Linked DNA regions of Homo sapiens: regions 1, 2, 3, 4, 5 and 7 are each linked to region 6. Evidence: fine-mapped QTL for protein levels in blood plasma. Region 6 holds a variant in brackets. A gene starts in each other region. All regions are shown on their reverse strands. Distances are between the middles of the regions.

Region 1 (4,000 bases), 41 Mb before region 6:
TGAAACCCTGTCTCTACTAAAAATACAAAAAATTAGCCGAGTGTGGTGCTGCATGCCTGTAGTCCTAGCTACTCGGGAGGCTGAGACAGGAGAATCGCTTGAACCTTGGAGATGGAGGTTGCAGTGAGCTGAGATCATTCCACTGCACTCCAGCCTGGGTGACACAGCAAAGACTCCGTCCAAAAAAAAAAAAAAAAAAAAAAAGGGAGGGAAAAAATGTGTATCTTAGAGTCAGTGAAATACCACACATCTATGGAATGGATGCACTTGGCTTGCAGATGCTATTGGGTGAGAGATTTATAGTTAGAAGAGGGAAGAGCTGGGTCCTGGAAGAACTGGGAGAACTAAGATAGCAGGTGGGATCCTAAAACAGATGAAGTGGGTTGGAAGCAGCCAATGAATCTGAGGTTTGGAAAAATGAGTCTGAAACTCCATTTTTTCTTCTTTTTACTGTAATATTTCCATTACCCAAGACTTTCAGGAAAAACTGGCTACAAGAAAAAGAGCTATACAAATAAAAAAACCTATTTAAGAATGAATCACTTTCGAATACGTCAAAGCAGTAATAACGATCACATATAACACTGCAGCTGGGATACTAACCAGTGGTGCAGCAGATTTCTTCCATTAGTTTACCAGTAGTATTCGCTCCTTAAATCGTTCTCTTCCTCTGGTTTCCATGACAGCATTCTTTGGGAGTCTTCTCTCTGCCTACCCAGTTCCTGTTTTCTTTAGAGGGCCTTTGGCCTGCCCTTAATATTGATATTCCATTAGGGACGCCCCTTCAAAGAGCCTTTCCCTAGACAATCTCACCCATACTTGCAACTTACTGACTTATAGTTCTTAACTCTCTCGAGTTCCAGACTTGAATTTTCAATCAACTCTTTAGTTTTAATCTGAAGCATCACCCCCTCTGCACACCCGCTCCTTCCTCTACTCTGTAGTATGAGAGTCTTAAACGTGAACATTATAAAAGTTTCCAATCATTTAGAATTTCAGGACACAACTGGAAGGGGAGGAGGGGCGAAGGGCACCACGGAGTTCCTACGTCTTAATTCTGTGTCCTTCTGCAGGTTCCCTTTGCGAAGACCTTAATCTTCAGTCTCGAGCAGGAGGCATTACAATGTTCTCCTGGGTGATGACTGCCATGAAATGGAATGACCGGGGCAGAGGCATGGACACTCGGAGCCACAGGAACCCCCTTGTTCTGCCAAAAGTACTCAATTTCCAAACCCTGTATTGACTTCTTTGAAAATCTGGTCATTCTATGCAAAGCCATGCAGATCATGATACAATCGATACAAATCAAATGCACATCAGGCAGAGCACCGAGGTCTGCAGAAGGTCTCGTCGATTTTTAAGGAGACAGAGTATGGTCTTTTTATAGTTTCCCTCATAAGGGAGCCAGAGGAAAGGATGAAGAATCTTCAAGAGAACCCAAGAGCGGGCAGGACTGCAAAGACCTCCCCTTTAGAACCCTCGTGGGTTGAACAAAGGGAGGCTGGGGCAGTCTTTTCCCACGAGAGACAAGGCCAAGAGGTCCGCCCGCGGGCCCTTGCGCGGAGTCAGGCTCGGAGCGGCTCGGGCGGGCGTCCCACCCTTGGCAGGAAGCGCGGACACGGCTGCTTTCCGGGGCTCCGAGGGGAGGGGGCTGCAGGGCCGCACGCCTGGGGGCCACGCTCCCCTTCCCTGGGCTCCCCTAAGGAGCCCTAAGACCGTTCCCTACTTACCTGCGTCCCCTGTCAGCGGCCATCAGCTCCTTGTGCTGGAAGGTGGACCAAGACCCCGCGCTCGGCGCCGCCATTTCCCGCTTTTCCCGGGCTCTCCGCTGCGCACCGCCCACAGCCCAAACAAACCGGGGGCCGTCGCTTCCCCCACATCCCTCCCCTCAGACGCGGACGCACACTGCGCCTGCGCCTGCGCCCTGCCGCGCCCACACACCAGGCCACCCAGTCCCCGGCCCGGTGCGTGCGCAGGCGCAGAGCTCTAGCGGCGGCCGCGCGGTCCAATGGGGTGAAGTGGGGTGCTCGGCGGACAGACAAAAGGAGGGGAAGGAGCGGGGCGGGGCAAAGGGCGGGGAAAGAGCGAGGGCGGGCGGGTGTGCTCCGTTCGGCCTGGGAATCCGATTGGTTATCGATTCCCGCGGAAATCACCCCGGTGCCTCTCGCGCCCCCTGGCCGGCCTATGGCGATAACTTCACGGAGACGGGCGTGGCTGGAGTTTTGCTTTATTGAAGTTGAACGGTTGGGGCCAGGCTGCGAAGGAGACTGAGAGCGCGACAAGGCCCTGGACAGATGCCCGCGCGGGGAAGGAAGGCTGGCTTAGGAGGGGGCGTCAGCTATGGTTTAGCAGCTTCCAGCGACCGAAACCTACATCACAGCCGCAGCACACAATTCCAGGAAACCTGGTGCTCAATATTGGGATCTCAGGAATCAGGACCGGCGGCTGGGGTGAAAGCCTAGCGGTCAGAGCTTAGGAGTGAGGCAGAAGCTGTTAGAGACTCTTCGCAAGTGACCCCGGGGCTACATATGGATGATTCAAGAGGGAGTCTCCTCGCCAGAAAGTTCACATGTTTCACTCCTTCTGGCCTTCATACCAACCCATTGTTAAAACTGGAAGTCCCTCCACCTGGGGTCACTGACTCCACTGTTTTCAGATAGGATGGGGACCCTGCACTGGAGACTGCTCTCTAGCCCCTGGGCAGGAGAGGCACAGACACTGCTACGCACGCGGAGCAGGGATCACCAGCGCTTTGACTGACTTTGCTCGTCCAGGAGGCTGGGGACATGCGTGCCCATGCTCAGCCCACCCCCTCTGTAGACACAATTGGTCGCCCATTCTGTTTATAGGAAGTCTTCCATCCTGCACCAGCAGCTGTCCCTAGACAGGGATTGGGAGACATGCAAGTTGCTTGGCTTCCTATTACCTTGTGTTGAAAACACAATAGGCTTTGGGATCAGGAGTTCATTCCAGTTATTTTAATGTTATTTACTAGCAGTGTGCCCTCGTGCACATTATCAAACTCCTCTGACTCTTGGAATCCTCATTTTTCAATAATAACTCACAAAGCTGTCAAGCCTAAGGGTTCTAACAGCTCGAACAGCACCTGGAACAGAAGCAATAGCCGCCACTCAGAGGTTACTTCTTCCTTCTCCGCCTTCTCTGGATCACCTCCCTACCTCATCCTCAATCTAACGCTGGAAATATTGGATATGGGGTAGGTCACCAAATGTTGCCAGAAGACTCAAATTATGCCACCCATATCTCAGCTGGGAAGGGCTTACCGTGGCCTGACTCTCCTCAGGGTCCAAGTCCCCATTTATGATGTCCAGGCAGAAACACTTGTTTCTGACACATAGTAGGCGCTGGAAAATGTTAGTCAAATGAACGAGGTCTGGTGTGGAGAGAAGAGAAATCTTGGGAGAGTCATTTAAGGGGGTGCCCAGTTGTCCTCATAAAAAACACTATCATCATCAGGGTGACCAAAGCAGACATCATAGGCAGGGGGTGGAGTCAGAGGCTCTAATGTGGGGACTGCCGCCAAGCTCTGCAGATCAGGAGCAGTGGACACAGCCCGTGGTCCCCGAAGCCGAAGGTTGATTGGAGCTCTTCCAGGGCTTCCTTCCTGGGCCATGGACCCCTCTGAGGCCATTCGCCTCTGTTCCAGTTTGGCTCTCCTGGACCCCTCTGGATGGCTAGGTTGTTCCTCCTCAGGTGCTGGGGGTATCACAACAGTGCTGTAGGGGGGTGGTTGGTCCAACTCTTGGGGGCGGCACTGGGATTCTAGTCCCACCACGGCCTCTTCATAGACTGGCACTTCAAAGGCTTCATTGTCCCTGAGGGAAGAGAAATAAGGCCATTGGTGGCTTCCATGAAAGAAGCCCTTTTTCCCTTTTTTTTGTCTGCTGTGGGCAAAAGATCCTCTGTTGGCCTCTGACCCCTCCTCCCGCTGATGCCAATGACAGGAAACCAGAGACTCTCTGCCTCAGAGACTACAGGG
Region 2 (4,089 bases), not on the chromosome of region 6:
CATCAGAATCACATGTGGACTGAGGCGCACGACTGAAACACCAGGACAGGGGAGTTGAAGCCAGGTAATAAGAAAGGAATTCAAAAGGTAGATAAAGTTCAGAATCCAAGGAGAGGAAGACCAGGTGTGGTAAAGCAACCAGCCTGCCCAGCAAGTCTCCTCGCTCAGGCCGAACACCCAGGGCCAAGCAGCCTTGTGTCAGTCAGGGCTCTGCCCTCCTCTCGCCAGCCCTGTTTCCCTCAAGGAGGCAGGTAGTTGCATCTTCCTCCACTCCCCAGTTCTCTCCATTTGGGTCTGAGGCAAAGCTAACACCCATGAGGGAAATGATTCATGCAATAAATTTTAGGCCGGGCATGGTGGCTCACAGCTATAATCCCAGCACTTTGGGAGGCTGAGGCTGGAGGATCCCTTAAGCCCGGGAGTTTGAGACCTGCCTGGGCAACACAGTGAGATCCCATCTCTACAAAAGACATATTAAAAAAATAGGTGGGTGTGGTGGCTAGTGCCTGGAATCCCAGCTGCTCAGGAGGCTAAGGCAGGAGAATACCTTGAGCCCAGGAGTTCAAGCTCTTAGTGGTCTTTGGATGACTAAACTTCAACACATCTTAGCTCAAAATCTCCGATCACACCACTGCATTCCAGCCCGGGCAACAGAATGACACCCTGTCTCTAAATAAATAAATAAATAAATGTTAATTGTGTAGCTATTATGTGCCAGGCACAATGTGGAAGGAAGGGGATACATTAGTGAATAAAACAGATCCTTCCTGCATGGTACTTAGTTTCTAAATGGAGACACACCATCAACAAGCAACCATAAATACGTTCTTGCAAACTGAGAGAAGTGCTATGAGGAAAATGTACAGGATGCAGGGGTGGAGGATGAGGAGGTCGGCTACCTTAGATGCCGTGGTCACAGAATGGCTCTCTGTAGGAGATTTTGAGCTAAGATATGTTAAAAGTTTAGTCATCCAAAGATCACTAAGATTAGTCTATAGTCTGACAACTTAGTAACTATTGACTTATGGCAGGGCAGAATGGGTGAGGGGAGGGAGGAGTCGTTGGGTTAGGTTCCTCTTGAAGGGCTCTAATAAGACCCTGATAGACCGACCAGGTTACAGTCCGATGGTCATAATCCAGATGAGAGATATCAATCTTTAACTGGGGTCCCGAGCATATGGGGTAGAAATAACAAGGGTTGTTGATGGATTAGATGTGGGATTTGAAGTTTAGGTCTACCAAATCCCTGGGACCCTTGCAGTCAGCTCTTTCTTGGGGAATGGGAAGTGGGTTCCAGCAACCTGAATTCAAGTGCATGACGAAACCAGAAAAAGCAAACGCCAAAATCAAAACTCGGAGCCTCAGAATACCTGCCAATAGATGCATATGCCCCAGCTTTCCGTGGAGGGCAGTTTACCAGAGCCCAGTGCAATTCCTAATTTCCATAAAGAACCCACATACAAATAAAGTCTGTCTAGTTCACTATGGTTAAGGTAGTCAGGAAGTGTGCCACATTTTACAAAATTTTCCACCCAAAATGTTTTTTTTTAATGGTGCTTAAAGGAAAAATTCTCATTTACCTGGAAAACTTAACTCCCCAAAGGGAAGTTTCGTTCAGATAGCTAAAGCATGCCAATCCCAGTCCCCAAGGGAACTGCAACAACGTCTCACCGGGCGCACTGCCTTCAGCAGTCACTTTCGAGTTTGTTGCCAGGTGTCCGAGCGGGTTTGAACGTCCGCGTCAATCCACACAGTACAAACCGGAGGAGGGGCCGGGACCACGCTTCCCCTCCAGGACTGCCTTTTGTACGTGTGTTTTGTTTCTGTTGCTAAGGTTTAGGGAGCTGCCCGGCTACCCTCACGGATTCCCATGGAAACTACCACCTCCCAGAGGACAGGAGGAGAGGCGAATTCAGGGTCCACCCACGGGCCCCGCCCAGGGATGGGGTCACTGAGGGTCCGGGCAGCGAAGGGCGGGGCCCGGGAGCTGGGCATGGGCGAGGCAGGCGCGAGAGGAGAGGGGCGTGGCAGGTCCGGGGCGGGGCCTGAGTGCGCCTGCGCAGTCCGCGCCACTCAGGGAGCCGGAGGGGACGCGCCGGAGGAAAGATGGAAGACTACCAGGCTGCGGAGGAGGTAACCGCCGGGTCGGCGACGGAAGGGTGGAGGCCTAGAGCCCTGGCCGCGGAAGGACACGCGGTCCTGCCCGGAAAGGCCTGGCTGCCCACCTCCTTCAGCTAGGCCAGTCTCGGCAGCCCACGGCCTGAGCTTCCCGGTCGCCGGCGCTCCGCCCGGCCCCATTCTGCCCGGACATTGCCGCCGTTTCCCCGGCGCGGGGGGCGGGAAGGGGATTGAGCTTCTTCCCGCGCGGGGAGGCACCGGGCGTGACTCGGAGAGAGCGCCCCGGTGAGCGGTGCCGAGAAACCTTCCCGCAGGGCCTCGCCTCCGGCCCGCAGCCAAGCTCGCCGAGAGGATGACATCACCGCCCCTTGCTCTGCGGGGCTGACCCCAGCCCCAGCCCCAGCCTGGAGCGGGGCGCGGCGGCCGGGCTGGGAGCGCCGAGGCTTGGACGTCTCCCCGCGGAGGTGCGGGTGACGCTCCCGCCGCCAGCCCCTCCGCCCCGGGCTGGCGTCCCGGCCATCCCGCGCCTTTGTCTCGGGCCTCACCTGGTTCTGCAACGCTGGGAATGAGTAGCACATTTCATTTCCGTTTAATATGTCTGTAAGAAAGCTCATTGTTGTGGGGAAAAAATCATCTTTTATGCCTCCTTGAGGAAGTAGGATAAAGCCCACGATGTCGCCAAGCAGAAGACACCCATCGGCACCGTGTGCGTTAAATGGCTTTCCTTCAAGCTCACGGTCATTCGGGGAATAGAGCTGATGGGCGCAGCTGAGATACAACACTCATTTTCTTCTTACTGAATAATCCTTGTTGAAATTCAGATAGAGCCCTATGGATTTATTATGCAGCCTGTCAAAAATATAAACTATAGATACATTTGGTAAGGTTGGATATCTTACCATTTATGAAATTTAGTGGCTGGGCGCAGTGGCTCACGCCTGTAATCCCAGCACTTTGGGAGGCCTAGGCGGGCGGATCACCTGAGGTCAGGAGTTCGAGAGCAGCCTGACCAACATGGAGAAACCCCGTCTCTTTTAAAAATACAAAATTAGCCGGGCGTGGTGGCGCATGCCTGTAATCCCAGCTATTCGGGAGGCCGAGGCAGGAGAATCCCTTGAACCTGGGAGGCAGAGGTTGCCGTGAGCCAAGATCGCGCCATTGCACTCCAGCCTGGGCAACAAGAGCGAAACTCCGTCTCAAAAACCAAAAAAAAAGAAAAAAATTTCGTTTAAGGAGGAATGTTTTCAGGGAAAATAAAACTAAAACTTAAGGACTGATTCTAGAGTTTCAGTTTTGATCTGATTTCCTAACTAGCACACACTTCCTGTGACAGTGGCATAATCAGTGTTTGAATGCTGATGGCAACCAAGTGAATAATGACGAGAAGAGCTGGTTCAGGAGCAGTTGGCAAAGAAAAAAGCCTTTCCCCTTAAACTGTTACTAATATAATATTGGAAAATGTCTTGTATTACAGTAATATCGAGTAAAACTTCTAAAAAAGAAATCGCTTTGTAAAGGAAAGCGCTTAATACTGCAGTCCGATTCTGACTCCCACAAATAAGGTGGCTAAGTGGCTTCATTATTCGAGATCTCAATCGCATATGTGTAAAATGAAGGGGCTGGACAGAGTGATGAGTGTTCTACCTGGGATGGAGGCCCTGGGAGGTGGAGACCATGGCTGTCTTGTAGTAGGCATGTCTTAGGTATTTACTGAATGGCCCGTTCTGGTCCTCCCACCAGCCTCTTAGCAGCCTTTTCTGCATCTCTTCTAACTTCGTGTAGATGCCTGGGCCTTTGTAACTATTCTCTCAACTCACCATTCATCTTTCTTGGAGACGTTAAAACTATCCACTGGATTCAATACAACTCTGCTTTCCACTAAAAATTCTTTAAAATGTCCCTCAACCTTTTTCGTACTGTAACCATATGGGAGGTGATACAGTGCCTTTCCTTTGTGATTAAGGTCACGGT
Region 3 (4,072 bases), not on the chromosome of region 6:
CTCATAGGCCTCTCCTCCCCCATCAAAATCTGCTCTCATGCTCATAATAACTTTCAGCCCAAAGAAAACTCAGAAACGCAAACCCTTGTTTTAGAAACAATTAAAAATAGCCTCCTTTATTGGCCTTCCTGCCTTAGACTTCAGCCATATTTTAATTTCCAGTAAGAGCTCAGTGAATACTGTTGAACCTAAGGAGTGCTCCTTTGAAGGGGTGGTAATGGCATAGGGGTTGATCTCGGATGAGCCCAGGAGTAGCCGCGGCGGTTCGCGCCGGCCAGCCCCACTCCGCGGGAAAGCCTGTGTGCTATTCCCGCCAGGGCCGGGAGGGGGCGCCGGCCTCCAGGAAATCACGCGCGGAGTGGGAGGTGCGTGGGCAGAGCCTCGGACCGCTGGAGGGAGTAGTGATGAGTCAGTTTCCTGCAAGGCGCTGCTCGCCCGCCAAAACTGCTTCCACTCCGGCTGCGCGTCACCCTGGGGTGGGGAGGGGGAGAATGGGAGGGGACCGGGGGGCCGCGAACACGTCACGCTGAGCCGGCCAGGCTTCCGAAACTCCCGCCGCTGTTGGGAAACCGCGCGCTCTTGTGCCGTCTCTGACACAGACACACACACACACACACACACACACACACACACACACGCCCGCGCAGACACGCACGCGCGCGCGCGCCGGGAGCCGGCCCCTCCACCTTATCTCCACGCCCAAAGCACGGGATGAGTCAGATCCCTGGAAAATAAAAATAGACGGGAGCAACGAAAACAAAACCGCTCGCAAGTCCTCCCAGAAACGCGACGTGGAGGGAGGCAAGGAGAGGGGAAGCTGCCTGGGCGCCCCAAGTTCCTAACCCAGCTCCAAGATGCTTTTCCTCACGAAGAGGGCGCAAGTGTCCCCCAGGGGTTTGGGACGGAGAGGACGCGCTGTGGTCCGCGCCAGGCGGCGGCGCCCCAGGGGGCGACTCGCCCCCCTGCTCCGCTCAGCCCTGTAGCTTTCGGAGAGGGAATCTGGGCTAGGTCGGGAAGCCCTGAGCCCCCGAGGCAGCTGATAGAGGCCCTGAGCAGCGTCGTGCCCCCCAGACCCCCCACCCCTCAAAGACATGAACCCTCCCCGCCTCCCATCCAGGCGTGGGCTCCGCTCCCGCCCCGGAGTCCAGCGCCCCGACCCGAGGACAGGCTGGGCCGCGATTCTCCCGGCCGCGGTGGGAAAGAGGTAGAGGAGACCCTTGCCCTTCCCCGACTGACAGGCTGGTTAGAGCCCGCCCAGAGCAGGGCCGTGACTCCCCGACCCCTACAGCGCGCCGCGGAGCGGGGACCCGACGCGGTGTCCCGGACCTCCAGTGCCCGGCTTCCTTGGGAACAAACTGTTCCAGCCAAATAGGTCACTGTGCCGATGGGAGGACGGAGACCGCGAAGGGGCAGGGGAGAGGGCTTCTGGAGTCCCGCTGTACCCCATCCCGGGCGGGGTTCTGACCTCATACAGTCCGTTCCCTGGGGTCTCCTTGTCACAGTGAGTCACCTCCTCGCTAGTCCTTAGGGGACGGGTCCTGGCACATTCCCAAGGGCCAGGAAACAGCCCGCGCTGACCTCAGCGCTCAGCCAGGTGGTGGACACAGTGGCGTAAAGGACCTGAACCTGGGACCTGGGCCAGGGCGGCGCAGATTGGATCCCAGAGCCACCCGGGACCGATCCTAGACGAACTTACTCCACTCCGCTTTCCTCGCCCTTCCTGGGCCCCTCCAGGGACACGGACTTCATCCCCACGCCGCGAGCAAACTGCGCCTGGGGCCTGGAGCCAACCGCAGCCAAAGGCGAGCTCCCAGAACGGTCCCGTCCACGCCCTCCCTCGCCCCAGCTGGGTTTCCAGGGGCGGGGAGCGTGACCAGGGATTCCTGTACTTGTAATCCCGCTCTCCGCCCCGGGGTCTCCGGCACATCCCGACTCTCGTCACCCGCGCACTTAGAGACACCGTGTGCGCAAGCCGAGCGCGCACCGACCCACGCCCGTCATTCACCTGCCGCAGAAACACCTGTGAACGCAGCACACACCCGCGAACACGCATCCTCGCGGACACGCAGGGACACACGCGGGCACGCTTGGCTCGGCTCTGGGCCGCCGGCCCGGGGTCCCCTGTTGTCTGCCGCCGCTCTCTCACCTCCTCTGAGTGCCTCGGTGCCTCGGCGAATCCGCGCCCAGCTCCGGCTCCACAAGGAACTGACTTCGGCAGCTGCTCACACCTCAGCTGGCGCAGCTCAGCGCGGCCCTGATATACAACCGCCCCGCCCGGGCCCGCCTCAAGGAGGCGGGACCCGCGCTCGGCCCACCGCGCCGCCCGGGACCGCCCTCCCCGGGGCCCAGGCTCCTGGCTGCCCAGCGCCGAGCCAGCTGAGCCTGGCCGAGTTCCAGCAGGCCAGCCGGTCCCGGAACCTCGCGTGCTGCAGGAGGGCACTTCCCTCCTCCCCCAGTCCCTCGCCTGCGTTGGTGCGCTGGACACATTTCCCCACGAAGTGAGCCACAAATCTGGCTTTTTTTACTTGGAGAATGAGTTGGCACTCTCCAGGAGGACACAGCACTGTTAGAATGAGCCCCCTTTCTGGCTCACCGCTGACCCACTCTGGCAGGCAAGGATTTACCCAATGCAGCTGAAAAGATCAGGAGGATGACATTAATACATAAAAATTCATAAATTATAAAAACGATGCACCTCTCTGCAATTTCCAGAAAAGCCCCACAATATCACCTCTATTCCCACTGATCCCTCACTAGGTCACCTCTCCCAGAAGCACCTGGAGCACCTAGACACCCCAACAAAGCATCTTGAGGCCAGAATGATTTTTCAGTCCCGTTTATTTCACAGATGAGGAAATTGAGGTCCACTGAACTTAAGTATACAAAGTTGTTGATTGTCACATGCTTCCGGGAAGGAGGGAATTGGAGAGACTACCAAAAAAGGGCAACCTGATCTCCAGGGAAACAGAAGAATTGGACATTGAACCAATCTCCCTACACCCTACACTCACCTGAACAGAAGAAATCCCTGTGGTTGCAGCAGCTTTGTTGGCCAGGAAGGGGAGGATTTGACGAGTGAGTTGTCTGTCTCCTGAATACTCCCCACATAGCCCGTATACACTGCTGGGGAAACTGGGGCTCAGAGAAGTCTGGTGACCTAACTCAGATCATGCAGCAAAGAAATGACTATAGTTGGAACACAGGACTTTTGCCTCCTGCCCGGGGCTCTCTGCTTGTCATCCTTTATTTCTGTGGCTCCAAAATGACAAAAATGCCAAATAACCCTCATTTGCAGATGGTTTATGGAGATGACATAAATAAAGGACAATTCTGGAAGTGTCTACTGGTTCTTCTGACAGACACAGAAATGAGTGATGTGTCTATCCGCTCCCATCTACCTCACACCCCTGACCTCCCCTGGACTTCACCTTTGCCTCCTTTCTGTGCCTGAAACATTTGCAGTTTTGCTTTTAAAAAATTGCAGAGGATGGATTGTTCATCTGAACAGAAATCCCACTAAAAAACAGAACCCAGGCTTGGAGCAGCTACAATTACTGACATCTCAGGCTGCTCAGAGTCTGGAAATCTCTGCCCAGACATGCCCAGTCTTCTTCCTCTAACGCAGCTGACCTCGGGGAGGACAGGCTTCTTTCTCCTCTGCTGTGGGGATGGGAGCCCAGGTAGGGGTGGGAGGACACAGTAGCAGACCCCCTTGGCCTGCCTCGCCCTGGAGTCAGGCCAGGATTGTGGCTAAACCCCAGAAAGGCCACGGCACAGCCTCAGGACCCCACTCTAAGCCCCACTGCTGTCTGCACCTTCGCTCCTATACATCCAAACCATCCAAAGGGCTGGTTGTCAAATGTCCAGCAGAGGACAGGCACCTTCTCCCACTGCCTTGAAGCCCCTCTGCTTTCAGGCATTTCAAATAGACTAGACATTGTCTGTCTGTTTACTTTGGGGAGAAAATTTTTTTTAATAAAGGCTTGTAATGAATTATTTAAATTTTTGTGGTACTGAGCTTCACAATGAAATAATTCTTTTTGTTGTTGTTTTTGGGAAAGAATTTTTTTTA
Region 4 (4,082 bases), not on the chromosome of region 6:
TGTGGTTCTGAGACTGATGGCCGGGAAGGGAGTGGGAGGTCAAAGGTTTTCAAGGGCCCTTTTCCCAGGAGGCCAGTGCTGTGTCGGGGGATGGGGTCTCACCTGCCTGCGCTCCGTCCTGTCCAGGTCGTGGATGAACTGTAAAGTACAGGAAAAGGCTGGTGAGACCTGCCCTGACCCTCTGCCACCTGCCCCTCTCCTCCTGGGTATGGCTCACCCATCACCCACCTTCATAATGGGCTGCGATCGCTCTTCGAGCCCGTGTTTTCCGGCCTTTAGGTGCTGAGGATCAAGGAAAGACAGATGAGCAAAGCGGGCCCTAGTGGGGGTCCCAGAGCAACTCTCCCAGCCCCATTCCCCTCTCAGGAACCCTGGCATCCTTATTCTTGTCCAGACTCCTGGCCTTAGAATCTCAGGCCTCATCTTCCTCAGTAAGTAGAGTGACTATAATTTGTCATCCACACTGGGATACTGCTGAGAGCAAAACGGGAAGCTGCTATTAATCACACCGAGATAACAGGTGGGGGCCAGGACAACTGCATGCCGACTTGGACACGTGGTCATCCGGCCACCCCATCATCCCATTCCTAAGTCTCTTTGCCTACCGGGGCCCAGGCCTCTGACTGCCAGGCCTAGTCTCCATCAGGATCCCAGTAGTTCTTCTAACTCATGGCCACCCTGCCTTCCTGTTTGGGGTAGGGTCTGAAGGAGCACATCCATATGACAGAAGGAGCTTCAGAGGAGGGCGAGAATCCCTAGGTTTGAGTCTTGGCTGGTTAGCTGCATGACTCTGAACTCCTTTCACCCTCCGTGCCTCAGTTTCTCCCTGTGGATAATGGTTTTTGCTCTGCCCGCTTCCTGAGGTTGGGATAGAGGGATGCTCACCACTTCTGCGAGGCCGAACTAGTCGGTTCAGGAAAGGCGCAGGATCCTGGCTTTCTTCTGTCTGGGGATTCAGTTCCTAGGGGAATTAGGGCAGGGTTCAACCACAGACTCCCAGAGATATAAAGTGAGACATACGGGGCCTGTCAGGAGAGCCACCAGCCAGCAATAGACACAGAAGTCAGGGACAGATTAAGCCCCTCAGCCAACTACAGCTGGGGCCCCGGGCAAAGGTGAAGCTGGGAGTCAGGCCCCAGTCCTCACCCTTTCCTCTAGACCAGCTACACTTTCCCACCCACACACACAACCAACGCAGACCCTGCATTCAATTGGCACATTGCACACATGCCCGCACCCAGTCACCACGCACAGAGGATACACACCCTGTACACAACCGCACCCCTCTTCCACGCAGACTCACATATCTTATACAACCACGTCACCCCCAGCCAATAAACACCTCAGACTCAGGTGGCACAACCCCAGCACAAACCCCTCACACAGAGTTGTCACCACGCACACACACCCCTGCAGACACGCACCCATGCACGCACTGTGTTCACACACACCCTGCACACACCTCGAGTACGGCTGGCACAGCTGCACACACCTGCAGCCTCGGCTGTGCACACTTCCCATGCCCCAGCAGCCTGCAGACCGCGCCCACGCCCACTCACCGACGGGTCCTGGTCCTCCTCTGCCACCAGCTCCTCCTGGGCAGGCTCCTGCTGGGAAGGAGGGAGCGTCACCCTGTGCCGCTCCACCTGACATCTCACCCTCCACCCATCCTCCCTTCCCCTTGCCTTCAGCCCACGCGGCCCCCAGCGGCCCCTCTGCAGTCTCAGCTCCTGATGTGCCCAAGAAGGGGTGCGCAGCGGGGCCTCACCTGGGCGGACAGCGATGCCCGGCTCCCCAAACTGACCACGGCCAGCAGGAGGCCGAGGCAGGCCAGCGCCAGGCCCAGGCCCAGCGCGAGCGGGACCAGCAGGGCGGTGCCCGGCTCCCCCCGGCGCCCCCTCCGCCTCTGGCTCCGACGGGCGGCCATGGGGGCGGGGGGCTGTGCCTGCCTCACCGCCCCCCCATCCCGGGACCCGAGGGATCGGGGGAGGGGGAGCCGGCGGGCGGATCGGGCCGGGGAGAGGGAGGGGCAAGGGAAACGGGGCGGGAGGGGGCGCTGGGGACAGGAAGCCGGACGCTGTGTGTGATCAAACTCCGAGCCTCTCGCCGGGCGCTGTGCGCGCAGCGAACGGAGTGGGCGCCCACCCGACCTCTGAGCGCCCAGCCCGGGCGTGCACCACCAGGGCGAGGTCCGTTGCGTGCGGCCGCGGGAGCGACGGGGCTATGCGTGTGCGGGCACCTCCTGCGGGGAGGTGGGGAACTCAGGAAGGCCTGTTGGTTCAGATTCTTCTGTGTCCCTGTGTCTTCAGAGATAAGGACCCTCCTTTCCCCCAGGTGCAGGGAGGGCGCCTCTCGCAGGAGGCTGTTATTTGCTTCTTCAGGAAAAGGGCAGGGAGTTCCAGGTTGTATGACCTGGTTCAGGGAAGAAGGGCAGGAGAAGGTAAGAAAGATCCTTCGGCTTCTGCGGTTTTCTCAAATTCCTTCAGCTTAAAACACTCACTGTGCCGGTAGCACGTTCTGAAGCCCATCATTACCAATGATTGCCAAGCATCTGAGGAGGACCAGCAGCATGCAAAAGAAACACCAAAATTGGTCCGGCAGGTGGCTTACGCCTGTAATCCCAGAAGGCCAAGGCTGGGGGCCAGGAGTTCAAGATCAGCCTGGGCAAGAGCAAGACCCCATCTCTACAGAAAAGTTTTAAAAAATTAGCCCACGCCTGTAGTCCCAGCTACTCAGGAGGCCGAGGTAGGAGGATTGTTTGAGCCCAGGAGTTTGAGGCTGCAGTGAGCTGTGATTGCACCACTACACTCCAGCCTGGGCAACAGACCTTGTCTCAAAAAGAAAGAAAGAAAGGAAGAAAGAAAGAAAGGAGGGAGGGAGGGAGGGAGGGAAGGAGGGAAGGAAGGAAGGAAGGAAGGAAGGAAGGAAGGAAGGAAGGAAGGACCAAAATTGGCTGGGCGCGATGGTTCACGCCTGTAATCGCAGCACTTTGGGAGGCTGAGGCGGGTGGATCACGAGGTCAGGAGATCGAGACCTGCCTGGCCAAGATGGTGAAACCCTGTCTCTAATAAAAATACAAAAAAATTAGCCGGACGTGGTGGCAGGCGCCTGTAGTTCCCAGCTACTCGGGAAGCTGAGGCAGAGAATTGCTTGAACCCAGGAGACAGAGGTTGCAGAGAGCTGAGATCACGCCACCACACTCCAGCCTGGGCAACACAGCAAGACCCTATCTCAAAAAAAAAAAAAAAGAAAGAAAGACCAAAATTAACAAACAAAATTTGACATTGGAGGAAACAGAGATAATTCAGGATACAAAGAGTACTACCTAATATACTTAAAGAGAGTCAAGAAAAAGCATCCATAGAGCTGGGCATGGTGGTGCATGCCTGTAGTCCCAGCTACTCAGGAGGTTGAGATGGGAGGATCACCTGAGCCTGGGAGGTTGAGGCTGCAGTGAGCTGTGATCACACCACTGCATTCCAACACGAGCAACAGAGTAAGACCCTGTCAAAAAAAAAAAAAAAAAAAAGAGTATGCAAAGAAAGAAAAGCAGTTAGAATCTCCAGAAAATTTTCAAAACTGAAATCACAATGTAAATAAGAAACAGCTGGGGCCAGTTGTGGTGGCTCACGCCTGTAATCCCAGCACTTTGGGAGGCCAAGGTCGGTGGATCACAAGGTCAGGAGTTCAAGACTAGCCTGGCCAAGATGGTGAAACCCTGTCTCTACTAAAAAAACAAAAATTAGCTGGGCACGGTGGCGGGCACCTGTAATCTCAGCTACTCGGGAGGCTGAGGCAGAGAATTGCTTGAACCCGGGAGGTGGAGGTTGCAATGAGCCGAGATCGCATGACTGCACTCCAGCCTGGGCGACAGAGCAAGACTCCATCTCAAAAAAAAAAAAAAAAAAAAAAAAAAAAGCAACAAAACAGGCTGGGCATCATGGTGTGCACCTGTAGTCCCAGCTACTGGGGAAACTGAGGCAGGAGGATCGCTTGAGCCCAGGAATTCCAGGTTGCCATGAGCTATGATCTGGGCACTGAACTCCAGCTTGGGCTGCAGAGGAAGACCCTGTCTCAAAAAA
Region 5 (2,998 bases), not on the chromosome of region 6:
CAAAACTCCGTGTCAAAAAAAAAAAAAAAAAAAAAAAGAAAAGAAAAGAAAAAAAAAATTGCCCCCTTCCTCACCTTCAACTCTTTTGCGTGGCAGGTATCTTGTTTTCACTTTCCAGTTCTTCCACCCCAGCCTGTGTCATGAGGTCCGCGATATTCTTTTCCAGATCATCAATGCGACTACTCATATCATCAAGTGCTGAAGTTAAAGACAACGCGTGCCAACATCTCATTGAGCCTTTTTCCTCCCGTCCCTGCAGACTACAGCCTTAAACACAACGACTTTAGGGAAACTGGTCTTCCAATTTTCTTTCGACACTGTTACACGCTGGTGGGTAAGAGTACAGGACTGTGGGGCATGGCTACCCCGCATCGGATTCCAGCCCTGACCCTTACTAGTGATGGAACCCCTAAACCTCAATTTATTCATTTGCTAAAGATGATAACACTACAACCCACTCATAAGGTCATGCTGAGCATCAAAAGACACACACAAAAGCGCTTAGTTCACAGTGCATGGTCCACCACACCAGCTATTAGGATTGGTAGACGTATGCTCCTTGAGCCAGGAGTCTAACTCAGCTTTGCCCCTAGCTCTCGGCGCAGTCCTTCTCAGAAACACAGTACAATCCAAGCTCAAATTCTACAAGTGAATGGCTGAAGCTAGCCTGAAAACTACTCATTTATCCCCACCACTGCCCGGCAAATAGGCTCCAAAGGCCCACAGGAGGCCGACTGCAGATAAAAAGGATATTTCTCCCAATGATCTGGTCAGACATGGTCTGAAATTTATCTTGCATCTGCTGCAGGAGTGTCTGCACCTAAGAAAAACCGAAACAAACAAACACGGTCCACATCGATCCTGAGACAACTTCCTGGGATCAGGACGCAAGCCCTGGTCCCGGGGTTCCAGCCCCATTTCTGCCTCTGGACAGCTGTGCGGCCTTCAGCAAGATCTTCCTTCTCTGGGCTTCCGTTTTCCAACCTGTCCAATTAGACTGCTGGGCTGGGGAGGCCGCTGCGACTCAAAGCTCAGGGTCTTTAGGTTGTTTCTGCCGGGCTGGGGCACCCGGGGGTGTGTGAGGAGTTGAAGGGCGGGGAGGGTGTCAGAGGTAGGCGGGAGGGACCCGGAGGGCGTTCGCGACAGATGAATGGGGCTACTGGAAGGGGTCGGGCTTGGGGGCGCCCGCGGGGAGACTGGCCCGCACCGAGCGCCCCGGGGGTCAAGGTGGCCGGGAGCCTCGGCCAGAGACGCTTCCAGAAACGGGGCCTCGGCAGACGCCACGCGCGGCCGCGGTGGGCGCGCCTCTGTCCAGCAGGGCTTGGCCCGGCGCCGCCCGGGAAGGCCGCGGCCTCCGGCCCTCACAGCCGTCCCTTACCACCGAGGTGAGGTCCTGCACGGTCTTGGGGTCAGTCTCGGCCATCTCCCCGATGCCCAGCTTGGCGGTGATGTCTCAGACCGTAACCTACACTTCCGTTTGTCCGCTCAGTCGCCCCGGGCCGCTGCTTCTCGCGACGAGACTGGCAGCTCGCGGGACCGCGGGGCATTATGGGAGTAGTAGTTTCTCCCGCACCGGAAGGGCCTCGAGGCCGCGCGCTTCCGTTCCAAGGAGCGGCCCCACCCCACTCTCCCCGCCTTCTTTCGCATAGCCCCTCCCCTCCCTCTATGCCCCGCCCCTCACGCAGCGCGCCGTCAGTGGGGTGGAAAGTGAGACCAACTCAGAAATGGAGCAATAGAGGCAGGGAGTGGTCTTGGCCTCTCTTCCAGGCTGTAGTCAGTCGAAAGACGGCTCTGGGGTTTCTTTGGCCTGTCGGGACGAACTTACAGAACTTTTGCCCTTCAACAAGCCCCACTGTACCCTTGTAACTGCCCCCAAGCCAAGGAACATGACCCACCCCTACCCGCCCCGGGAGCCCCATGGCTCCTGTCCTGTTCTGTCATCTCCACCCTATGAAGGTGGCCAGCGTCTGGAGTTTAGCCCAGTAGGTTCATTGTGCCCGTCAGGTTCATATGAGGGGATTCAGACAGGAAGCTGTCCATCATGCCTGGCTTCTTTCACTCCACGCAATGCCTGCTGTTGAGTGGGGAAGGCTTCCGGCATCAGGGTTAGACTGTGGGTTTGGGTGTTGAAGGAGGTGGGCACTGCTGATTTGGAACCTCAAGTTCCAACCCCACAGGTGGTCTTTAGGATTGGGTCTCATGGCAAGGGGATAGGAGAGTCCTTGACTGCGGGCCTGGCATGTTCTGGAAACTTTCACACATCTCATTTAAGGACTGTGCTATGTGAGGGGTCAGCTCCAGTTTGACTTTAGCTAGGGAGAGGCTGTAAGGTGTTAGAGCTGTTACGGGAAAGGGTCCTGATCCAGACCCCAAGAGAGGGGGTTCTTGGATCTCATGCAAGAAAGAATTCAGGGCGAGTCTGTAAAGTGAAAGCAAGTTTAAGAAAATGAAGGAATAAAAGAATGGTTACTCCATAGACAGAGCCCTGAGGGCTGCTGGTTGCTCATTTTTATAGTTATTTCTTGATTATATGCTAAACCAGGGGTGGGTGATTCATGCCTCCCCTTTTTAGACTATATAGCGTAACTTCTTGACGTTGCCATGGCATTTGTAAACTGTCATAGCGGTAATGGGAGTGTAGCAATGAAGACAAGCAGGGTTCACTCTTATTGCCATCTTGGTTTTGGTGGGTTTTGGCCGGCTTCTTTACCGCAAGCTGTTTTATCAGCAAGGTCTTTATGACCTGTACCTTGTGCTGACCTCCTATCCCATCCTGTGACTTAGAATCCTTTAACTGTCTGGGAATGCAGCCCAGTAGTTCTCAGCCTCAGTTTACCCAGCTCCTATTCGAGATGGAGTTGCTCTTGTTCAAACGCCTCTGCCAGACCCACCAGTGTCTCTAACAAACCCGGAATCCAGTTGGCCTTGAGGCATGAGACTTCAACTCCCTTTACCACCCCTTCCCCCTCACTCACACCTTTGCCCCTCACCCTTCACA
Region 6 (4,089 bases):
GGTGCTAAGAACAAAGTCATTGTTTTCAGAATTCAAACATTCTTTCGGGTGAGAGGAGTGGAAGACACAGGTTTTATAAGTAGGGGATCATGTGCAGATAAGTCATTGAAGAAGAAAAAGTCAGGGAAGGCGGGAGGGACCAAGAAGGGATGGGTGAGGATGGCTCCTCTGAGAAGGGGACATGTGAGCTGAGACCTAAGAAAGTAAAACCTAACCATCACAAACCAAAGTCGGCCTCTAAAATGGGATCCCCACCACCAACCCCAAAACCAGATACTACAATGCTCTTGGCCGGGTTTTTAGCCATGTGCTTGGTTAGCTGCTGCTTAACTTTATTCTTAAGGAATCTACATACTGCATTTTTTTAAAGCAGGTTCCCTGGTAAGAAACCCTACTCCTCAGAAACAACAAAAATAGTATGTTCTGTTTTCTCTTTTTTTGAGACAGAGTCTCGCTCTGTTGCCCAGGTTGGAGTGCAGTGGCACCATCTTGGCTCACTGTAACCTCCGCCTCCTGGGTTCAAGTGATTCTCCTGCCTCAGCCTCCCGAGGAGCTGGGAGTACAGGTGCGTGCCACCACATTCGGCTAATTTTTGTATTTTTAGTAGAGACGGGGTTTCACCATGTTGGCCAGGCTGGTCTTGAACTCCTGACCTCAAGTGATCCTCCCACTTCGGCCTCCCAAAGTGCTGGGATTACAGGCGTGAGCCACCACCCCCAGCCCTTACTGTTAAATGACCATGATGAAGCTGATTTCTACAAATACACCAGGAGGAAGAGCTAAGGGGGGAAAAAAATTCCCTGCAAAATAAAACGAAACAAAGCTCCTTGCAATTATGCAAAGCTATAGCACAGCTAAGTTATTCTGAGCTAACTCAACCTAGAGGGGTGACGGCCTGGCAAAGGGGGTCATCCGACCCAGCCAGACAAGCTCCGTCTTTCCCTTCCTGCTTCACTCATTTCTGAAAAGAACAGTTCCAGTTTAAAGTAACCCAGCAAATTCATCCTCAACGGGTGAAACCCCATCCTCGCTTCACCTGACTCAAAGCGTGCGCTGCTTTAATTCAAAACAGCTGACTTCGGAGGCCTACAGTCCTCATTTTTCATCCGTCCCCATCATACCAAAAGCAGACTATGTAAGTAAGAGCGGTGAAAGGCCTTTCTGTGCTGAAAACATATTTTATGTATTGAAAAGTACTTGGTGGCCACGCATCTTAACTCCTGAAGAAGAAAATAGTTATTTCTTTTTATTTCTGCAGATATTTCAAAAATATGATAGGTATTGAATGCTAGGCCTGTGACAGGCAAAATGCCCTGTAGGAGGTGCCCGGGTTTCAGAGTCAAGCACAGCCCCCAATCAGATAAGCAGAGGCCTGGGAGAGGGAGGACATCAGGACCCACGTGACGCTAACACCGGGCGGGGTAAGGGCAGGAACATGGCGCAGGCCCAAAAGTGGCCCGCGGCGGGTGGTACGGGGCAGGACAGAGTCCACCTGCTGGAGAGGATCTGAAGGGCCTCGTCCTAACAGAAACAGGAACCGGAGCTGGGCAGGACTTCAGAGGCTGAAGGATGGGAGAGGGAGGGTGCGCCCAGGAGGAGGCACAGCTTGAGCAGAGGCGTGGCTGCATGACCGCGGAGGGAGGGTTCACACCCGGGGCCTGTGGTACGGCTGGCAGGCGTGGGAGAGCCAAGGTGGGGACACAGAGAGGTCAAGGAGGCCGAGGCCGAAAAGGGACCACAGAATTTGGCTACAAGAAAGCAGTTTCAGTTTAACGATGACAAGGGAGCCCGAGTGAAGAGGAAAACCTGTCAACTCCTCGTGAAAGTCGGGAGGGTTTCTGCGTAGAAAAAAACAGCGTTCAGCAGCTCAGTTGGCTGCCGTGAAGTCATCAGAACTAGAGGAAGAGTTGGA[C/T]TTGCTCTAGTGAGGACAGCTTTTGAAGTCACTAACCACAAGGAGGAAGCCTTCCCCTCTGGGCCTGCAGGAAACAGATTGCGTGGCTTTGTCTGTCCTGGCTGGGGAACGCATGACACGCTGAAGGGTTTTCCAGCTCTAGGGAAGAAAATTCATCTTTCTGTAAAGTCCACTTCGTCTTCCATTATCTACCAGACTTCTTGATGGGACCATTTTTAGAGCCTTCAGTGAAAGAATGGAAAACACTAACTTGGATAAACAATTAAGAGTAGGGAGGGAAATAGGTGAAGACGCAACTCTGATGAAATAAACAAACCGCAACCGTGGAATAACATTCTGGTTATTATGGGTCGTGATTAACGGCTCCCTGCGTTGATGGCTGAAAACTTGTGCTTTACTGCACACTTCCAGCAGAATTTAGCTGCTTTTTTCTTTCTTGTTTCCTTTTTTTTTTTTTTTTTTTTTTTTGAGACAGGGTCTCACTCTGTCACCCAGACTGGAGTGCAATGGCTTGATCATAGCTCACTGCAGCCTTGACCTCCTGCTGGACTCAAGCGATCCTTCAGCCTCAGCCCCCAAGGAGCTGAGACTACAGATGCACGCCACCACACCTGGCCAATTTTTCTTATTTTTTGTACAGACGGGTTCTTGCTATGTTGCCCAGGCTAGTCACAAACTCCTGGGCTCAAGTGATCCTCCCGCCTCAGCCTCCCAACGTGCTGGGATTACAGGCGCTAAACCAGCACTTAAGCTGCATTTTTTTTTTTTTTTTTGAGCTGGAAACTCCTTCTACCGCCCAGGCTGGAGTGCAATGGCACAATCTTGGCTCACTGCAACCTCCGCCTCTCGGGTTCAAGCGATTCCCCTGCCTCAGCCTCCCGAGTAGCTGGGATTACAGGCGTCTGCCACTGCGCCCAGCTAATTTTTGTATTTTTAGTAGAGACGGGGTTTCACCATGTTGGCCAGGCTGGTCTGGAATTCCTGACCTCGTGATCCACCCGCCTTGACCTCCCAAAGTGCTGGGATTACAGGCATGAGCCACCGCGCCCGGCCTTAAGCTGCTTTTTAACACATGGGGAGAACACAGAGAAAGTACCAAAATGAATGTTGTAACTCAATTCTAAAATACGTGAAAATATACTGAAGACTCTTCCATTGCATCATCTTGTAAATTCAGGTGAAATCCTGCCTGTCCCTACCTAGGCCTCATTTTCCTTATCAACCTATGAGAAACGACCAGGCATTTCTTGGGTCCCCAGCACCCTGGAGAAAGAGACCACTCGGAGGACACGGCCCCTCACCTCATGGTCCCCCTGGCAGGCAAGGCCACCGGGCCAATTAATGGAAGTCAGTGACCAGCAACTGGAAGGGCTACAGGGTTTGGGAGGAGATAGAGCCTCTGAGGTTGGAAAGGCGGCCAGGGTTTCACTGGGAGGCAGGGCCTGGGCCAGGCTCCAAGGGACGGGGTCCAGCCCCCAGCAAAGCATCAGCACACACTTCAGCAGGAGGTAAGATGCCACGGCACTGGGGAAATTTTTAAGCAAGAGGGAAGAGGATGCATTAACAGAGAAGAGGGAGGTCACCATTGTGGGGCATTGCAATCCAAATTGAGTCCAGGCCGGGCGAGGTGGCTCACACCTGTCATCCCAGCACTTCGGGAGGCTGAGGTGGGAGGATCACTTGAGGTCAGGAGTTTGAGACCAGCCTGGTGAAACCCCACCTCTACTAAAAATACAAAATTAGCTGGGTGTGGTGGCACATGCCTGTAGTCCCAGCTACTTGGGAGGCTGAGGCACAAGAATCGCTTGAACCCAGGAGGCGGAGGTTGCAGTGAGCCAAGATGATGCCACTGCACTCCAGCCTGGGTGATAGAGTGAGACTTCATCTCAAAAAGAAAAAAAAAGAAAGAAAACTGAGTCCATTTTTAGTCCTTTGAAGTGTGCAGGTGTGTGTGACTAAAAACAGGCAGAACCATCACTGTTGAGAATGGGGTGCCACAGAAATGGGAGACAGGGTGTCATTTCTTACTCCAGCAATCGGAGGAGGCAACTGTTAGGAACAGCCCCCACTGGCTGAGCAGTGGCCAAGAGGCACCTCACTTTATGGAGGGGGTCCCTTCCAAACACTAAGAACTTAGGAAGTTCTCGCCACCCAGAGATAAGGGAATGGAGATGCCC
Region 7 (4,089 bases), not on the chromosome of region 6:
TGAGATCACTCCAGTGCCTTCCTCCTTGGCTGATCTCCTTCTGGGCTGCCATCTTCCTCCTTCCACTGCAGAATCTTTACAGAGTGCTTTCATATCTCCCAGAGAAGTCCCCCTTGTAACTCTACTTCCTCAAAGTTTTCTTGGCAATTCTCACATGCATTTTCTTCAATATGAACATTTACAACAATTTTTTCCATTAAGATCTCACTGAGACCCTGGTTGGACATGTGCTCCCTTTGCATATTAATTCGGGAGGATGACCATGTATGGAATTTGGCTATGAAACAAGGCTGGTTTCCAAATGGAGTCCAGCTCGTTTCTATCAGTCTCACAGCCCACACAGGGGGCGGGGCTTTCAGGACATCCTGAGAACTCCAGTGCCGTGCACACCTCTGTCCCAGAAGCATCTAAATCATGAAACAAGCATGGGGTGGGTGGTCTGGGTTCCCCAGGCAGGGGCTGCCTAGAAGAGAGGTACCTTGTGCTGGTCCCGGGAGCCTTCCCTCCAACCTGCTCCCTGGGTCCCTCCACACGCTCTGCTCCTTTGCTGGTCTCCTCTGGCTGAGTCCTCGGCTCTGTCCTTCACTCCTCCTCAGCACCGGCTGTTCTGGGAGCTGACTGGGGCTCCAGAGTACTTGGACTCATGCTTAAACCTCTCGCCTCCTCTGCCCACTCAGACTTTGGCTTCTCTCAAACGCTCACCTTTTCTCCATCCTCTCCCTGCCCTCCCAGACATAGCAACCTGCAAAGCTATACCCAAATAAAGGCGCAGCCATACCCAGAGCCGAAATAAACAGCGACTTAGCTCCTTCTGGGCACTCCTGTAGGACACAGTCAGCTTCCCCTAAGTAGGAATGGTTAGAAATTGGCATCAGAAGATCTAAGTTTGGGCCCTGGCCACTTATTAATGAGGAGCTCCTGGGCAAGTCCTTTACTTGCTCTCACTTTCCATTTCTTTCATTTGTGAAATGGAGCTGATAACTTTCTGGTAAGGTGGTTCTGAACCAACTATAGTCAGGCACCATGCCAGGCGTGAGGATTTAACCAAGATGAAACAGACCCACTCCCCGCCATCATTACACACACCGAGGCATTGAGAGGAATTCCTATTTCCCAGGTCTCAGTTTGCTGTCGGCTCTCGGCCTCAGTTCTGGCTGAAGCAGACCTAGAGTCTGATTCTGGCAAGTGGTTTAACCCCAACACACGGTTTCCTTATCTGTGAAGGGGGCTTCTTAACCCCCAAGGAAGCCATCAGTGTCATTTGGGGATAAACACTCTTTTGCCATCACCCCTCCGTCTCTAGGCTGTTCTGCCAGGAGCAGGTCCTGCCCTGGGCTGTGGAATCTGGGGCTCAGAAGCTGCCAGGTACCCACCTCCTGCCCTCCTTGCACTGCCTGCCTCTGCCTTTTCCTCACCATGCCTGGCCCTAGCAGGCTGGCTCTACACGGTCACATATGTGACTCCCCTGGCTTTTGGAGGTGCAGACCTTTGTCCCTTCCCCTTGGTGTACCCTGGGGTGCAGGTGGAAGAGAGAGAGACTCTGGGGTGCCCACATCACCCCCACCCTGGAACAGCAGGCTTCATAGGCAGGACCCAAGTATGGACACTCTGCAGACTGCAGAGGGCTGTGCAGACCGGAGGTGACAGCAGTTGGGGTTAGACATCACCCTGAGCACTGTTTGCTCAATAAGGAGCTTTTGTTGAAAGCTGGCATTTTTCTTTCCAATTTTTTTTGGCTTTTTCCATCTCCCATCTTCGCAGCATCTCCAATGCTTGGAGTCTTGGAGTTTTCAAACTCAGAGACTCTAGAAGTCACCTAACAACTTCGTCGCTTTACGCTGCTCCTGGAGGGTGAGTGACCCACCCGAGGCCACACAGCCAGGTTAGGCGAAGACGGGTCTGGAGCCCGGGCCCCTGACTCCCAGTTCTGCTGAGGGCCCCGTTCTTTCTGCACTGTTTCAGGTGGGGAGAGAGGGCAGGCTGGACCTGTGCAGTTTGTTTCCCCAAGTGTCGCACCGTCCTCCTCACCCTGCCAGCTTCAGCCAACCTGGGCAGCTGACTCCTCACCCTGGGCTCTGTCCTTGCCCTGTAAGTGGCCACCTTCCAGCCCCAAACCTTCCTGGCCCTTTTCATCCTGCCCACCAGCCCCCATGTAGCAGGACCCAGTAGAGAAGGGAGCTGGGTCTCCCTCTGAGCCCCTCCAGGCAGGACTCACCGTGGCCAGGACGGTGCTGGCGGCTGCTGCTGTCACTGCTGCCAGCGTCCAGGGCAGGAACCACCTCATGCCTGGACGTCAGTGGCACAGGCATCGACCGAGCAGCCCAGAGGATCCGACCACCTCTCGGGGGAGCTGGGCCCAGACTGGCCGGCCCATCAGGAGCACCAGATATGCCTCTTCCGCAGCCCTTGGGGGGTTTTATTAAAGCAAGATCTGACGTCAGGGTGAAGGACAAACCCTGCATTTTCCTCTGAAAAAACTTTTCCTGCCTCTCTCTCTTTTTTTTTTTTCTTTCTTCCCTCTGTCCCCACCTCCAGCCTGAGCTTGGCCAGCCTCCCCAGCTCTGACAGTTCTTAAAGGGAAAGTTACAAGGCTATGACTTCACACTAGGGTGTGAAATTCTCACAGAGGAGCTGGGGTCATCCTGCCTAGGTCTTTCACTACTGTAGGGAGGGGGGAGCATGGGAGGGTGCAGGATGTCCGAGGAGATACTGTTACCCCAGGCAGGCGGGTGTGTGGGCTTTGAGAGGGCTCCCAGTGGGAAATCAACTCCCTGTCATTTCTTCAGGCTGCTCCTACTTCTGGTTTTCTTTTTCCTTTTCTTTTTCTTTTTCTTTTCTTTTCTTTTTTTTTTTTTTTTTTTTTTTTTTTGAGACAGAGTCTCGCTCTGTCGGCCAGGCTGGAGTGCAGTGGCGCGATCTCTGCTCACTGCAACCTCTGTCTCCCAGGCTCAAGCAATTCTCCTGCCTCAGCCTCCTGAATAGCTGAGATTACAGGCATGTGCCACCACACCCAGCTGATTTTTGTATTTTTAGTAGAGACGAGGTTTCACCATGTTGGCCAGGCTGGTCTCAAACTCCTGACCTCAGGTAATCCGCCCACATCAGCCTCCCAAAGTGCTGGGATTACAGGCGTGAGGCATTGCGCCCAACCCTACTTCTGGTTTTCATTTGCCCTCTTGCACTCCCCTCTACCTAGCTGCAAGCGAAAGAGGTGGCTTTCAGTCCACCCATCTAGAGATGATAGGAATTCACAAATAAAATGAGCTCTGAGGCTCAGGTTACAGCATCACCTTCATGACACGTGAAAGCCACGGTAACGCATTTGCTGTTTGCCGTCTCTGCTCATTGGTCAGAAGCCGTTTGGTGCTGGAGCTGTCCCCACGTGTCTCTGGATGCTTGCTATCCCTGGGGGGTTGGGTTTCCTGGCCTGTACCCTTATTGCACTGCTGCCACTGAGTCTCTTCCTTGGGCAAGAAAGGAGATGGGATGTCTTCTATGGGCTGTCCTAGTCCAGCCCTGTGCTCCCCATGGGGACCGCTGCCACAGCCTCCTGACTGATACCCAGCCTCCCTGCCCACCTTCTACCATCCACACATCTCAGAGCAATCCTTGAACTAGCGTCATGTATAGATCATCTTCTGGATACAACTGTCCAAAGCCTGCCCATCACACAGCACAGAGTCCCCAGTCCTGGCGTGGCCCCTGGGCCAGCCAGCTCCCTGTACACTTCTTCCTCTCTCCCTTTCGTGCACCATGCCCAACCACAATGGCCTCCTTGCAACTCCTCTCACACCTTGGCAAGTTCTCAGCATCTCCAGGTCTCAGTAGGAATACTCGACACTGAGGTTTAAATGACAGTTACTCCTTCTCTTCTCTTTTCCTGTAGCTTATTAACAAGGGATGCTGAAGCATGTGTGGCTGCTTGGAGGTAGCAGCAGGCTTGTGTTCATGGAAGAGGTTTATGATCCCTATAGACATGACCCCAGAAGAGATGGTGCTCATGATTTCTCCATTTACTGACCTGGGGATGTGCCTCTGATCCAATTCCGGCCAATGAGACATAAGGGAAACCTGCTAGGGTCTTCTAGA

Alleles and levels. Alleles are on the strand shown, and positions count from the first base shown. The strength of an association depends on the size of the effect and on how common the allele is.
In carriers of allele C in region 6, the plasma level of the protein whose gene starts at base 1,909 in region 1 tends to be lower than with T alone (weak association).
For the plasma level of the protein whose gene starts at base 2,072 in region 2, allele C in region 6 goes with a lower level than allele T (weak association).
In carriers of allele T in region 6, the plasma level of the protein whose gene starts at base 2,231 in region 3 tends to be lower than with C alone (weak association).
In carriers of allele C in region 6, the plasma level of the protein whose gene starts at base 2,023 in region 4 tends to be lower than with T alone (weak association).
In carriers of allele T in region 6, the plasma level of the protein whose gene starts at base 1,522 in region 5 tends to be lower than with C alone (weak association).
In carriers of allele C in region 6, the plasma level of the protein whose gene starts at base 2,390 in region 7 tends to be lower than with T alone (weak association).

What was found. PIP is the posterior inclusion probability: the model's chance that the variant is causal. The UK Biobank Pharma Proteomics Project read protein levels with antibody pairs (Olink). The fine-mapping took linkage between variants from a reference panel, not from the people measured, so its PIPs are less certain.
Region 1: CASP2 starts here. The variant in region 6 is fine-mapped to the plasma level of the CASP2 protein (UK Biobank, PIP 0.96).
Region 2: DYNLT1 starts here. The variant in region 6 is fine-mapped to the plasma level of the DYNLT1 protein (UK Biobank, PIP above 0.99).
Region 3: it holds the start of CDKN1A, and the variant in region 6 is fine-mapped to the plasma level of the CDKN1A protein (UK Biobank, PIP 0.95).
Region 4: TNFSF12 starts here. The variant in region 6 is fine-mapped to the plasma level of the TNFSF12 protein (UK Biobank, PIP 0.97).
Region 5: HSBP1 starts here. The variant in region 6 is fine-mapped to the plasma level of the HSBP1 protein (UK Biobank, PIP 0.98).
Region 7: it holds the start of CCN4, and the variant in region 6 is fine-mapped to the plasma level of the CCN4 protein (UK Biobank, PIP above 0.99).

What each region holds. Positions count from the first base shown.
Region 1 is chr7:143,286,260-143,290,259 of GRCh38, reverse strand. It overlaps CASP2 (caspase 2), which reads right to left and starts at 1,909. Exons shown (of 11, transcript NM_032982.4): 1 at 1,731-1,909. The coding sequence starts at 1,804. It overlaps TMEM139 (transmembrane protein 139), which reads right to left. Exons shown (of 3, transcript NM_001282876.2): 3 at 2,212-3,836. The coding sequence ends at 3,431. It overlaps TMEM139-AS1 (TMEM139 antisense RNA 1), which reads left to right and starts at 3,926. Exons shown (of 3, transcript NR_133932.1): 1 at 3,926-4,000. RefSeq lists a silencer at 1,533-2,282.
Region 2 is chr6:158,642,726-158,646,814 of GRCh38, reverse strand. It overlaps DYNLT1 (dynein light chain Tctex-type 1), which reads left to right and starts at 2,072. Exons shown (of 5, transcript NM_006519.4): 1 at 2,072-2,133. The coding sequence starts at 2,107. It also overlaps a transcript of SYTL3 not described here. RefSeq lists silencers at 1,915-2,144, 2,305-2,634 and an enhancer at 1,758-2,701.
Region 3 is chr6:36,676,873-36,680,944 of GRCh38, reverse strand. It overlaps CDKN1A (cyclin dependent kinase inhibitor 1A), which reads right to left and starts at 2,231. Exons shown (of 3, transcript NM_000389.5): 1 at 2,147-2,231. It overlaps DINOL (damage induced long noncoding RNA), which reads left to right and starts at 2,386. Exons shown (of 1, transcript NR_144384.1): 1 at 2,386-3,336. RefSeq lists silencers at 229-618, 2,189-2,418 and enhancers at 1,350-1,937, 1,949-2,138, 3,331-4,072.
Region 4 is chr17:7,546,999-7,551,080 of GRCh38, reverse strand. It overlaps TNFSF12 (TNF superfamily member 12), which reads right to left and starts at 2,023. Exons shown (of 7, transcript NM_003809.3): 1 at 1,769-2,023; 2 at 1,560-1,607; 3 at 886-961; 4 at 229-282; 5 at 103-138. The coding sequence starts at 1,927. It overlaps TNFSF12-TNFSF13 (TNFSF12-TNFSF13 readthrough), which reads right to left and starts at 2,023. Exons shown (of 11, transcript NM_172089.4): 1 at 1,769-2,023; 2 at 1,560-1,607; 3 at 886-961; 4 at 229-282; 5 at 103-138. The coding sequence starts at 1,927. RefSeq lists silencers at 1,829-1,908, 1,939-2,128.
Region 5 is chr16:83,806,502-83,809,499 of GRCh38, reverse strand. It overlaps HSBP1 (heat shock factor binding protein 1), which reads right to left and starts at 1,522. Exons shown (of 4, transcript NM_001537.4): 1 at 1,379-1,522; 2 at 754-820; 3 at 75-195. The coding sequence starts at 1,423. The coding sequence ends at 77. RefSeq lists silencers at 1,086-1,375, 1,393-1,569 and an enhancer at 1,227-1,728.
Region 6 is chr7:101,854,474-101,858,562 of GRCh38, reverse strand. All of the region lies in intron 1 of CUX1 (cut like homeobox 1), which reads right to left. Among named protein-coding and RNA genes, the nearest start is that of CUX1, 39 kb to the right of the region's middle. RefSeq lists an enhancer at 1,512-1,641. The variant C/T (reference allele first, on the strand shown) is at 1,913.
Region 7 is chr8:133,189,340-133,193,428 of GRCh38, reverse strand. CCN4 (cellular communication network factor 4) reads right to left here and starts at 2,390. Exons shown (of 5, transcript NM_003882.4): 1 at 2,216-2,390. The coding sequence starts at 2,284. RefSeq lists a silencer at 1,271-1,518.